Regions from separate parts of the Homo sapiens genome. Here region 2 is linked to region 1. The links come from fine-mapping of genetic effects on gene expression. A gene starts in region 1. The other region holds a variant in brackets. All regions are shown on one strand. Distances are between the middles of the regions.

Evidence for each region. PIP is the estimated chance that this variant, and not a neighbour inherited with it, causes the effect.
Region 2: its variant is fine-mapped to the expression of EDN3 in tibial nerve (GTEx, PIP above 0.99).

The regions. Positions count from the first base shown.
Region 1 is chr20:59,298,120-59,303,492 of GRCh38, forward strand. EDN3 (endothelin 3) reads left to right here and starts at 2,492. Exons shown (of 5, transcript NM_207034.3): 1 at 2,492-2,745; 2 at 3,291-3,603. The coding sequence starts at 2,694.
Region 2 is chr20:59,237,859-59,243,231 of GRCh38, forward strand. All of the region lies in intron 4 of ZNF831 (zinc finger protein 831), which reads left to right. Among named protein-coding and RNA genes, the nearest start is that of EDN3, 60 kb to the right of the region's middle. The variant G/C (reference allele first, on the strand shown) is at 2,339.

The sequences.
Region 1 (5,373 bases):
AATGCTGCCTCCTCTGATCATCCAGCTGAACACACTGTCTTCTTCTCTTAGCTCTGTGCGGCGTTTTATGTTCTCAGCATCCTGGATCCTTGGCGATCTATTTCTGAACTTCCTTACCTCAACTAGAGTAGAAGACCCAGAGGGCAGGGCCAGCTCCATCCTGGTATTTGGCTAGCACCTCCTGGTGCCTGAGAGGCTCATCCAGGGTTTGTTGATTTTTAGTCCCAGTGAAGACAAGTGGTGGTCGGCTTCAAGCTACTGAAGGCCATAGACCCAGAGAGTGGTCTAAGCAGCCATGATACCTCCTGTGTCTGAACATGGTACCCGGAAACCTCCTCCTACTCCTTTTCTCCTTTTAGCTGATTAGTATATTTTCTATTCCTCCAGCCATCCCCCAATCCAAGAACTTTTTATTTTGTTGAAGATGGAAATTTTAATTCCAAAGAGATAGTAATTATTATGGTCTGAATATTTGTCCTCTCCAGATTTATCTGTTGAAATCCTATCCATGAAGGTGATGATGTCAGGAGGTGGGGCCCTTGAGGGGTGATTAAGTCATGAGGGTTGCAGCCCTCATGAATGGGGTTGGTGTCCTTAGAAAAGAGACCCCCAGAGAGCTGCCTTGACCCTTCCACAACTGAGGATGCAGTGAGAAGTCACCATCCATGATCAGAAATCGAGCCCTTATTAAACACCGAATCTACCAGCACCTTGATCTTGGTTTTCCAGACCCCAAAAATGTGAAAAATAAAACTCTGCGGTTTATCAGCCACCCAGCTTATGGCGTTTTGTTATAGTAGCCCCAACAAACAAAGATAATACTAAAATGATCCAAATTCTAGCCCAGCAGGAACAGAAGATATTGTGAGTCTTGGGTTTTTCTTATTTTCAAAGCATCAAGTGCAAAAACAAACAAATAAACACTTGGATTCAAGGGCTAGGCAGGATGGGATGGGAGTGGGGGGATGGAGAACTTCAGCATCAGCTTCAGTGCTGGAAGCTTGAGTGCTACTCTAGTTACTGCAGCTCTGTACCAATTTACCCAGAGTTTAGTGCTGTAAAACAACCATTTATTATGCTCATGGATTGTGTGGGTGGGAAGTTCGGACAGGGTACAGCGGGACAGCTATTCCTCAGTTGGAAGTCTTGAGGGCTGGGAGCTCAAATCATCGGAAGGCACATTCACTCAGGTCAGTGGCTGACACTGGTGGTCGGCTGGGAGGCCTCGGTTTCTCTCCACGTAGGTTTCTCCAGGTGATCTCTCCAGGTGGGCTTGTTAGGGCTTCCTCCTGGTACAGCAGCTGTGTTCAGAGGACAGGTGTCCTGAGCTATCAAGCCAGGGGGATGTTGTAGCACTCTTTTGGACTGTCCTCAGAAACTGCTCTGGTCACTTCAGCTGCTTTCTAGTTTTCAGAAGCTGGTCGTTAAGGCTAGTAGAGGGCAGGACCCAATTCAACCCCATTTTTTAGAGATGAGGTCTCGCTATGTTGCCCAGGCTGGTCTTGAACTCCCAGGCTCAAGCAATCCATCCACCTTGGCCTCTCAAAGAGCTGGAATTACAGATGTGAAGCACTGCCCCTCCCCCAACCCCATCTGTTATGAAAGGAGGGTCCTTTGACCACAAGTGCCCTGAGAAGTCAGGAGGACTTCCCAGTCTCAGACATTTTTATCTGAGCTGGAGATGGGGACAGCCTCCCACACACAGGACTTGGAAGGCTATGAAGGAAGTAGGGGGCTCTCTTGGGAGGTCATTTCCCTTGGTAGGGACGGTTGTGTGAATGAACTTGGCCTTTAGGGAGAGGAGCCCGACTCTCACCTGAAGCCACCCAACCTGTGCAGATGGCTGAGGAAGCCCTGGACACCACAGGACCGCTAACCCAGGATCTTTGTTGACTTTGCTCCCAGGCCACTGCCCCACACGCAGGCTCTGAACTCCTGGGAGAGGTAGGGAGCCAGCCCGAGGCGTGAGTCAAGAGTGTAAAGTACACCGAGTTCCTTGGCAAGCAGGCTCTTCAAGGGGAAGGTGTCACTCGGGGAACAATGAGAAATGTGTCTTTCCCTCAGCCCCTGATAGAAAAGATAACACCCCTTGAGCACAGCCTTTTCTCATCTGTTCTTGCTCTTGGATGGGGGGCTGCTACTCCGGAGCGGCGAACTGGCGGGCGGGGGTGCGCCTGTGAGTGTGAGCGCGCGTGTGCGTGTGTGCGCGCGCTCTCGTGGCCTTCCGGCAGCTGGCAGCTGTCCCGGCCCCCACCCCACCCTACCCCACCCCACCCAGCCGCGCCACGCCACGCCGCCCCCGCCCCTCGCTGTCCTGGGTGCGCCTCGGGCCGCTGCGCTCCTGGCCAGCTCCCCCCAGCGCCTGGGAGGCGACCCCCAGTGCGCCCGGGTTCAAAGGCCCGGCGAGGCAGTTCCAGCCCCTCTGGGGGGCGGGGAGGCGACGGGGGTGGTGCAGAAGCCAGAAAAGCCCGAGCCACAGCCGGCCAGCTCCGCGCAGGGATGGGCAGCGCGCTCTGAAAGTTTATGACCGCCGCAGCCAACTCCTGGCCGGAGCTGGAGACGCAGCGAGCGATCGGCCGGCCTCGAACCCCCACAGCTGGAGGGCGAGGCCAGCTGTACCCGGCCCCAGTGCCCTTTCGCGGCCACAAGCGGCCGTCCTCCTGGTCCGGTGCTCCGGCGCCTGATCTAGGTTCATGGAGCCGGGGCTGTGGCTCCTTTTCGGGCTCACAGTGACCTCCGCCGCAGGTAAGCGCACGGGGCGGCGCGCCTCTCCTGGCGCGAGCGCACACAAAAGGACCCAGGGCGGGGGACCCGAGGCGCGGAGAAGATGTGCGTCGCGGGGAGCAAACTCTTGCCTGGGCTCTGCACTCGTGAAGACGCCTGGGGGAGGGCTGGGGAGCAGAAGCGGCGCGCAACGACTACCCGCACGGGCTCCGGGAGTTGCAGCCCGCGCACTGGCTGGAGACCTGCTGCCTGGGCCGACTTGGTCAATTTTTCATGAAACTGGGGACTTTTCAGAAAGTTTGCGAACTATTCAGAGGCTGTGCCAAACCCTGGCAAAGTTTGCAGAAAGTATGCAAAATGCATGCAAGTTTTCAACGGGTGCAGATAGCTTGCAAGCTTTTCACAGAGTGTGCAGATAGCTTGGAAACTTTTCAGAAACTGCGCAGAGCTTTGGAAACTTTGCAGACATTTTGCTTGCTCCACCCCCCTCCTCAGGTGTTTGGGGGTGGCGGGTGTTGAGGGGTCTGCACACTCAGCTTAGGAGCCCCTCAATCTGCCTTCTGCAGGATTCGTGCCTTGCTCCCAGTCTGGGGATGCTGGCAGGCGCGGCGTGTCCCAGGCCCCCACTGCAGCCAGATCTGAGGGGGACTGTGAAGAGACTGTGGCTGGCCCTGGCGAGGAGACTGTGGCTGGCCCTGGCGAGGGGACTGTGGCCCCGACAGCACTGCAGGGTCCAAGCCCTGGAAGCCCTGGGCAGGAGCAGGCGGCCGAGGGGGCCCCTGAGCACCACCGATCCAGGCGCTGCACGTGCTTCACCTACAAGGACAAGGAGTGTGTCTACTATTGCCACCTGGACATCATTTGGATCAACACTCCCGAGTAAGTCAGCCTTTTGTGGTGAGGAACGTGGCTCCCGGACCAGGCCCACATCTGCTCATTCCCAGGAGGACCTCACTCCACCCCAGCCCCGCTCAGTTAGCCCAGAGCCTGCCCTGGCACAGCCTTTAGCTCTTGCTGGGGCCTCTTGCCAGCCCAGGTCTCTTCTGCAGGTCAGGGGTGTGACCCACATCCCCCCTGAGGGCCTGGCCCAAGAGAAACTCAATCCTGAGTTTGATCCTGTGGAAGGAGGAGCCCTCCCTCTGAATGAAGTGAACTGACCAGGGGGATTAGATACCTGAGATGTCTCTCTGAGCCTCTTTTCTGAGATAGAGAAAGCCCCGAAAGTTTATCTCATTCCCCAGGGGCCAAGGGGGCTCATACTCACTGTTGACCCCACCAGGATCCAAGGGGTTTAAAATTCCTTGAAAGCATCCTGGTCTCCAGGGAGTCTAAGGGTGGGTTTAGCTGAGCCTGACAGAACCTGCACAGTCCACTCGGGGTAGAATTCCCCTGGGATGGGCTCCCTTCCTTCCTGTGGGCCCCCCTGGATGCCAAGGCAGGGTGAATTCACATCAGCTCGTCCTTGGGCCTTCCACAGGCTGGCTCCAGTCACCCACTGCCATGGTCACAGAGGGCCTTCCCTTCTCTCCTGCAGTCCTTAGAAACTCTCTTACCCTAGGGCCTAGACAGCACCATCCTGAATTTGTCTTGGGGTTCGTCCAGTGGGGAAGTCAGCCTTCTCCTGGGGCCATGTGGAGAGAGTGTGGCTCTGACAGGGGGAGGCTTTGATGACTCCCAGTGTTCAGGGAACCCCTCCTGCAGGCACATCATCTTGCAGGCCATACAGAGGGCTTGACCTTGCCTGGGTCACCAACTCTCTGGCATTGGCTTCCCCATCTCTAAGATCTGGGACTTGGATCAGACACCTCTAAGTTCTGTTCCCTGGGTGTTCATGGGATCTCTTGGGACTCTTGCTTGTACCCTATTAGGGATTCTTAGCTGAGAACTCAGAGATGGTTGTGAATGCAAGCCCCTGGAAGCCTGGAAAGGCACCTTTGCCACCGTGTCCCGGAGCCGTCTTGATTCAGGTTCCTCACGGTCACCTTTATCCCCAAGCCCCATAACCTCTGAGCCCTTGGTAGCAGCTTTCATGGGGCTCACTTACCTACCTTGTGTCATCGGCACCTCAAAAATGAAGTGCAGACGAGGGTAGTAAACCTGAGGGGTGGAATGTCTTTCAGACCAGGGGACAAGACCTCTAATCACATCCATGATAGATCTGGAACATCACCCCACCATGCTTGAAGGGCAGGCAGGGGCTTCACATTGAGCCAGCAGGACACGTGCACAAAGTCCTGCACTCAGAAAGACTCTGGCTCGGCTTAAAGTCCTGCTGTCACTGTCTTGAAATCCTTAATACTTTCTGAACAAAGAGCTGCACATTTGCATTTTCTCCTGGGTCCCATAAATTCTGTAGCTGGTCGTGATACCCTGATTTGCTGGCTGGGCTGTGTCCACCTAGAGGATGGGAGGTGCCTCCCTGTTTCTTTCCCTTTGTGGGGAAGATAGAAGCTGTGAGTGTTGGGCCATCATCAATTGCCTCTTATCCTCAGATAGCGAGGGGAGTCACCTTTCCTTGTAGCCCCTGCACCTTGGCACTGCCCTTTCTGATTCTTATCCTGCATCATTGTGCTCTGATCAAATTCACTTCATAGAATGGAGGGCACTGGGCAGTCACCAGGAACCGAGTTCTTGTCTTGGCCAGAATCC
Region 2 (5,373 bases), 60 kb before region 1:
GACTGATTCGTCTAAGCTCGGCCAGCCCCTGCCCTGCTTCCTCTTCCACCTCCCTAAAGTTGGATGGCCAGATTTTGCAAATAAAAATACAGAACTCCCAGAATACGTAATTTTTTTTTAGCATAAGTATGTCCTGAACATTGCATAAGACATATTTATGCTAAAAATGATTTGTTGTTCACCTGAAACTCATATGGAACCAGTCATCCATATTTTATCTGCCAACCCTTCCCTAAGGCAAAGCGGTAGAGACCTCGGACCCTCGTCCTTTCTGGCATATTCCTCTCTGGGGGACTTCATCTGCTTGAAAATTTCCCAAATCTGATTTTTTCTTCTTAATCCTGATCAGTTTGGGCATTCCTGTTCATCCCTGCTCAGTCGGCCTGGGGCCTTTCTCACAGCTGGGTTGATTTCTGGGCCTTCTGTTTTTCAAACACTAAACTGGTTACCTCTGAAGAGCTGGGAAGCTGGTTCCCATCCACCAAGTGTCCTGACCCCCCAGTTTCCTCTGGAATCAGTGCATCTCGATTTCTCTCTCTCTTCCTCTCTACTTCTCATGTGGTCTCTGCCCACCCCTCTGCCTGGGGTTGCTTGGCTTAGGTAAGGCCTGGCCTTTTCAAGACCTGGGGCACTTTAGCCAAACACCCTGACCAGAGGAGAGGAGCAGCCAGTCGCCTAGATTGTCCAACCTTGACTTTGCCACAAAGGAAAGGCCACATTTGCTTTCTTTGTTTTCAAAGCTAATACATGGAAGAAGAAGGCTTAACTTTCTTTTCTCTTTGAGATTCGTGAGGGAGACAGCATCAAAGCTGCACCCTTCTGGCTTAGAAAATACACCCAGAAGCTATAATGAGCACCAAGATGAGATCTTATATACAGGGTACATTTCTATGCTAAAACTATTTTAAATTTTATTATCCACCTCATGCTATTTCATCTCCTCTCGTCCTCTCCCCCTTGTATCTATTAGAGCCTGGGTATGGATTTCTTTCCCTGAGATAAGTTTCATAATCACGAAGCATACTTGACAGTCACACACAGCAGACGCAGGGCCGGAAGAGGTTCAGCAAGGAAAATGGTAGCTGTGTTTTCCTCTCTATGAGAGAAATATTGGAATATTGGAGGTAAAATGGATGAATACATTCCCCCAAATAGAAGTTTTGAAGGTTGCTTTTGCATAGAGAAGTTGAAGACTCCATGAAGTGATAGAAAGCATGTAGATATGACAATTATTTTTCTTTTGTTCCCCTCACCCAGCATCCTTTGGGGTACAGGCCCACTTCCCATTTTTCTTCCCCTTTCTCCACATTGACTTTTTTTTTCTTTAATAAATTTTTATGATGGCCTGAGTGAGAAAACCAAACCAAACCCATTCCCAGCGCTTCCAGCCCTCAGGTTTTGTTGGATGTTCATGCAATTTTCTCATTATTTTTCTGTCAGTGTTCATAGAAACAGTGTAAACTACTTGATTTCAAAACCATTATGTTAGTTTACTGCATTATCATTTAAGCTGTGTATTCTTTTGTGATTTGAATTTAGTCATAACATATTTTAAAAGATAAGCCAAGAAGATTTCTCGAATACATTTTTGATGACAACTGCTTACGGTTCAAGTTTCCCCCCTTCTTTCATCTTTTATGTGACTTTCATTTTACATCCTTGATTTAGTTATTCTTTCTTTCTGTAAACACTTTTTTTTTTTTTTTTTTGAGATAGAGTCTCGCTCTGTCGCCCAGGCTGGAGTATAGTGACCTTGGCTCACTGCAACCTCTTCCTCCTGGGTTCAAGCGATTCTCCTGCCTCAGCCTCCCGAGTAGCTGGGATTACAGGCGCGCGCCACCACGCCTGGCTAGTTTTTGTATTTTTCGTAGAGACAGCGTTTCACCATGTTGGCCAGGCTGGTCTTGAACTCCTGACCTCAGGCGATCCGCCCACCTTGGCCTCCCAGAGTGCTGGGATTACAGGCGTGAGCCACCGCACCCGGCCATCTGTAAGCATTTTAAGCAGACCTTGTGACTTCTATTGAGAGAAGATTCTGGGGCAGCACAGTCTTACTTCTCCAGTTTTGTCTCACTCAAGAAAATACCCAGGTAGACAGCCCTGTGCTATGGTGAACTGGTTCCTCCAGCCCCCACCCCTGCCTAAGACCACCCCCAGGGGAGGATTCAGGGAAGTGGAAGCGTGGAAGACTCTAAAGATTACCTTCTCTCCCCTTGGGGAAGGTTTGTGTATTTTTTATTCTGTTCTTCTCACCCCCACCCCCACCTACCCCCACAGTCCCCCAGCTGCTGTCTATCCTCTGTGCGGAATTGTGTGCCTGCCACAAGATTCCCCTCCT[G/C]CGGCATTCTCCACCCCTTCTGCAGTTGGAATTTTCTGGATGCTTGACATTGTTTACACTCTTCTTCGGACAAGGGTTAAAGGCTACCTCCCATTTTCTGTCAGATCATAGATGTCCTTTCCTCTATTGCTTTAGAATTGCCAAAGAGACTCCTTTTGTGAGTGGTAGAATAGAATCCTTCAGGAAAGATGTAAAGGCTTTTTCTACACCTCAAAAATGGACTTTCTAGGCAGTTCTAATAATACATCAATTGCTGCTCTTTTAAAAACATCTAGAAATGAGATTTACTGATTGATTTGGTTGGTTTGAAAATTATTTCTAGGGGCCGGGCGCGGTGGCTCACTCCTGTAATCCCAGCACTTTGGGAGGCTGAGGCGGGCGGATCACGAGGTCAGGAGATGGAGACCATCCTGGCTAACACGGTGAAACCCCGTCTCTACTAAAAATACAAAAAAATTAGCCGGGCGTGGTGGCGGGCGCCTGTAGTCCCAGCTACTCCGGAGGCTGAGGCAGGAGAATGGCGTGAACCCGGGAGGCGGAGCTTGCAGTGAGCCAAGATGGCGCCACTGCACTCCAGCCTGGGCGACAGAGCGAGCCTCCGTCTCAAAAAATAAATAAATAAATAAATAAATAAAAATATTTCTAGGGAAATACTCTTCCTTTTTATTCCCTCTCTTTCCTAAATGTTGCTTTTGTCGTCCTACCTGTATTTTCAGGTAAGCTTTTGGGTTTGTGTGTAACTGAGCTTGTAAATTTTTAATGCATTTTAACCAGACTGAAGAAATTTACAGGAAGATAGAGATGCTACTGTGCGTCTAGGAGATAGTTTCTGAGGTAAAAAAGAAAAAAAAGTCCTATAATTAAAGTTTTATATTGTAAAATAATTTCTACAGCTGGTGTGAGGACAAAGGAGAGACTTCTTAGAATTCTGTAAGAATTTGGCCCCTCTCTTCCTATTATTCCTCCATTCCTCTTTGCTACCCCACGTCTCAGCTTCCAAGTTACATGCGACCTTGAGGTTCAAGTCTCCATGATCTCTTCATAGCAGAGCAGAGCTAAGTCTTGATATTTTATTCCTTGCTTTGGTCTAAAAGAACTCATAACCGGCCCCCTCTATTTTTTTTTAATCAGAACCCACAGAAACCATTGAGAGGCTTTTGCTGAAAAAAAAAAATGCCACTTGAGCTGCATTGCTAAGGGTTGCAGTTCCCGAAGTACTCTCTCTTTTGAGGTGGAAATCTTGAGAAAAGAAGCCAAGTTGAAAGTATTTCGGTGACCCCACAGTCCACCCGGTTGAGCTGCTTTTATTACAAACTTTTATACGTTTATAAGAAACATATATAAGAAAACTTTTGTAAGAAACGTTTATAAGAAAATGACACTTGTAAAATAAGCCAGAAAGCGTAGATTCTTGAGTAAATTTCTGTATGTGAAAGTTTTTAAAGAGTATTTTGGGCAATGTTTATTTCTTTCCTCTTTATCTCAGTCCTCTTGTCTTAAACAGTATTGAAGAAATGCTGTTGAATTTGGTACCTGAATAGGATTTTATATTACTGAAATATTCAAATTGACTGTTCCTTTAGTATTGTTTAGAAGAAATATCTGGGTGAAAGGAAGTTTTCTGCTTTCCAAATGCTTCACTTTCCTCTACGCCACAAAAAATAAGAGAACTGAAAGAGAAGAAAGAAAAGTACAATCGCCTAAGTACTCCACGAGATGGAATATCTAAACACGTTATGAAAACAGAACAATATTCCCCCATCGTCTTTTGCTGGTTTTCTTGTCGAATTAAGTTTTACTCGTCTGAAGTCTTGGTTTGAGCGAAGCCCTAAATGCTCCTTCAATATTTGTTGCTTCACAAAGGCTGGACTTAGAATGTTTTCTTTCCTAAGGTGATTAGAAAACCAAAATTGATGACGCCAACTCTAATATTTTCTTTCTTGTTTCTGTTTCTAGTTTGACAAGAGCCCATTTTTCCCCCCTCAGGATTAATGAAGGAGAGAAGGGGAGATCTTTCTTCCCAGCTATTATTATTGAAATGGATCAATTTCTCCTTTTTAAGGATGCAAATCTTGAGGAAAAATGAGCTCTCTCCAATACCTTAATTATATTTCAAGAAATGGGCTGTTGTTTATGAACTCATCCAGTATTGAGAAACATTGAAAATAATCATTCAAACAGTAGATACTCTTGATTTCAATTTTGGCATCATATATTTCAGAAGGTATTTTCACTAATTATATTTTTTCTCCTCATATATCCTTTTGCTGTCTAAATTTTAGATACACACTTGTGGTCTAGGCACAAATATTAACGATTGATTTTAAATATGACTTTCCGCTAAATATTGTTTGGAAAAAGAAAAACAAATCTCTAAATGGGAAATCTTAAATTGATTACCTTTTATCAAAGAAATAAGAGAAATGAGTACCACTAAGAAAAGTAATTTCTGAAATAAAATGTATGATTACTTTAGAAGAGACAAACTTTCAAAAAATTGCACTAGGAAAGAGAAGTACCCTGGTATGGGTTGCTAGATTTTGATAAATGTATTTTTCTGCTCTTTCGATGAGTCCTTCAGCCACATCTCTCTGAGGAACCAGGGCTGAGGCTTCATCACCAAGTCAACCCTCCTTAGATGGTTTTGTGAGGTGGCATTTTAGCGATTCCTCAGGCTGGTCACCTCAGACTCTCAAAGCAGATGAAGCGCCCTGGTGGTGTGGAGATGGGATGATTCATAACCCATCTCCTCTGTGGCATTTACCACAATACCAATCATTGTGTAATTCTGTCCTATTTTGTTTTATCTTCAGCTACGTGTATACTACAACAAGTACATAGAATAGAGCTTCTTAATTATTAGCAATAAACCTGTATTTAACTCCAGGGCAAGGCAGGGCAGGGGATGAGGGAGACCTCTATTCTTTCCCGTTGTCTTATTTACTTTCCCTCTTAATGGAATCTTTTCTTTTGAATTCAGCACATACCTAAGGTTTTAAGTGATTGAAATATTTTAACTGGATTTTTTTCCCCCA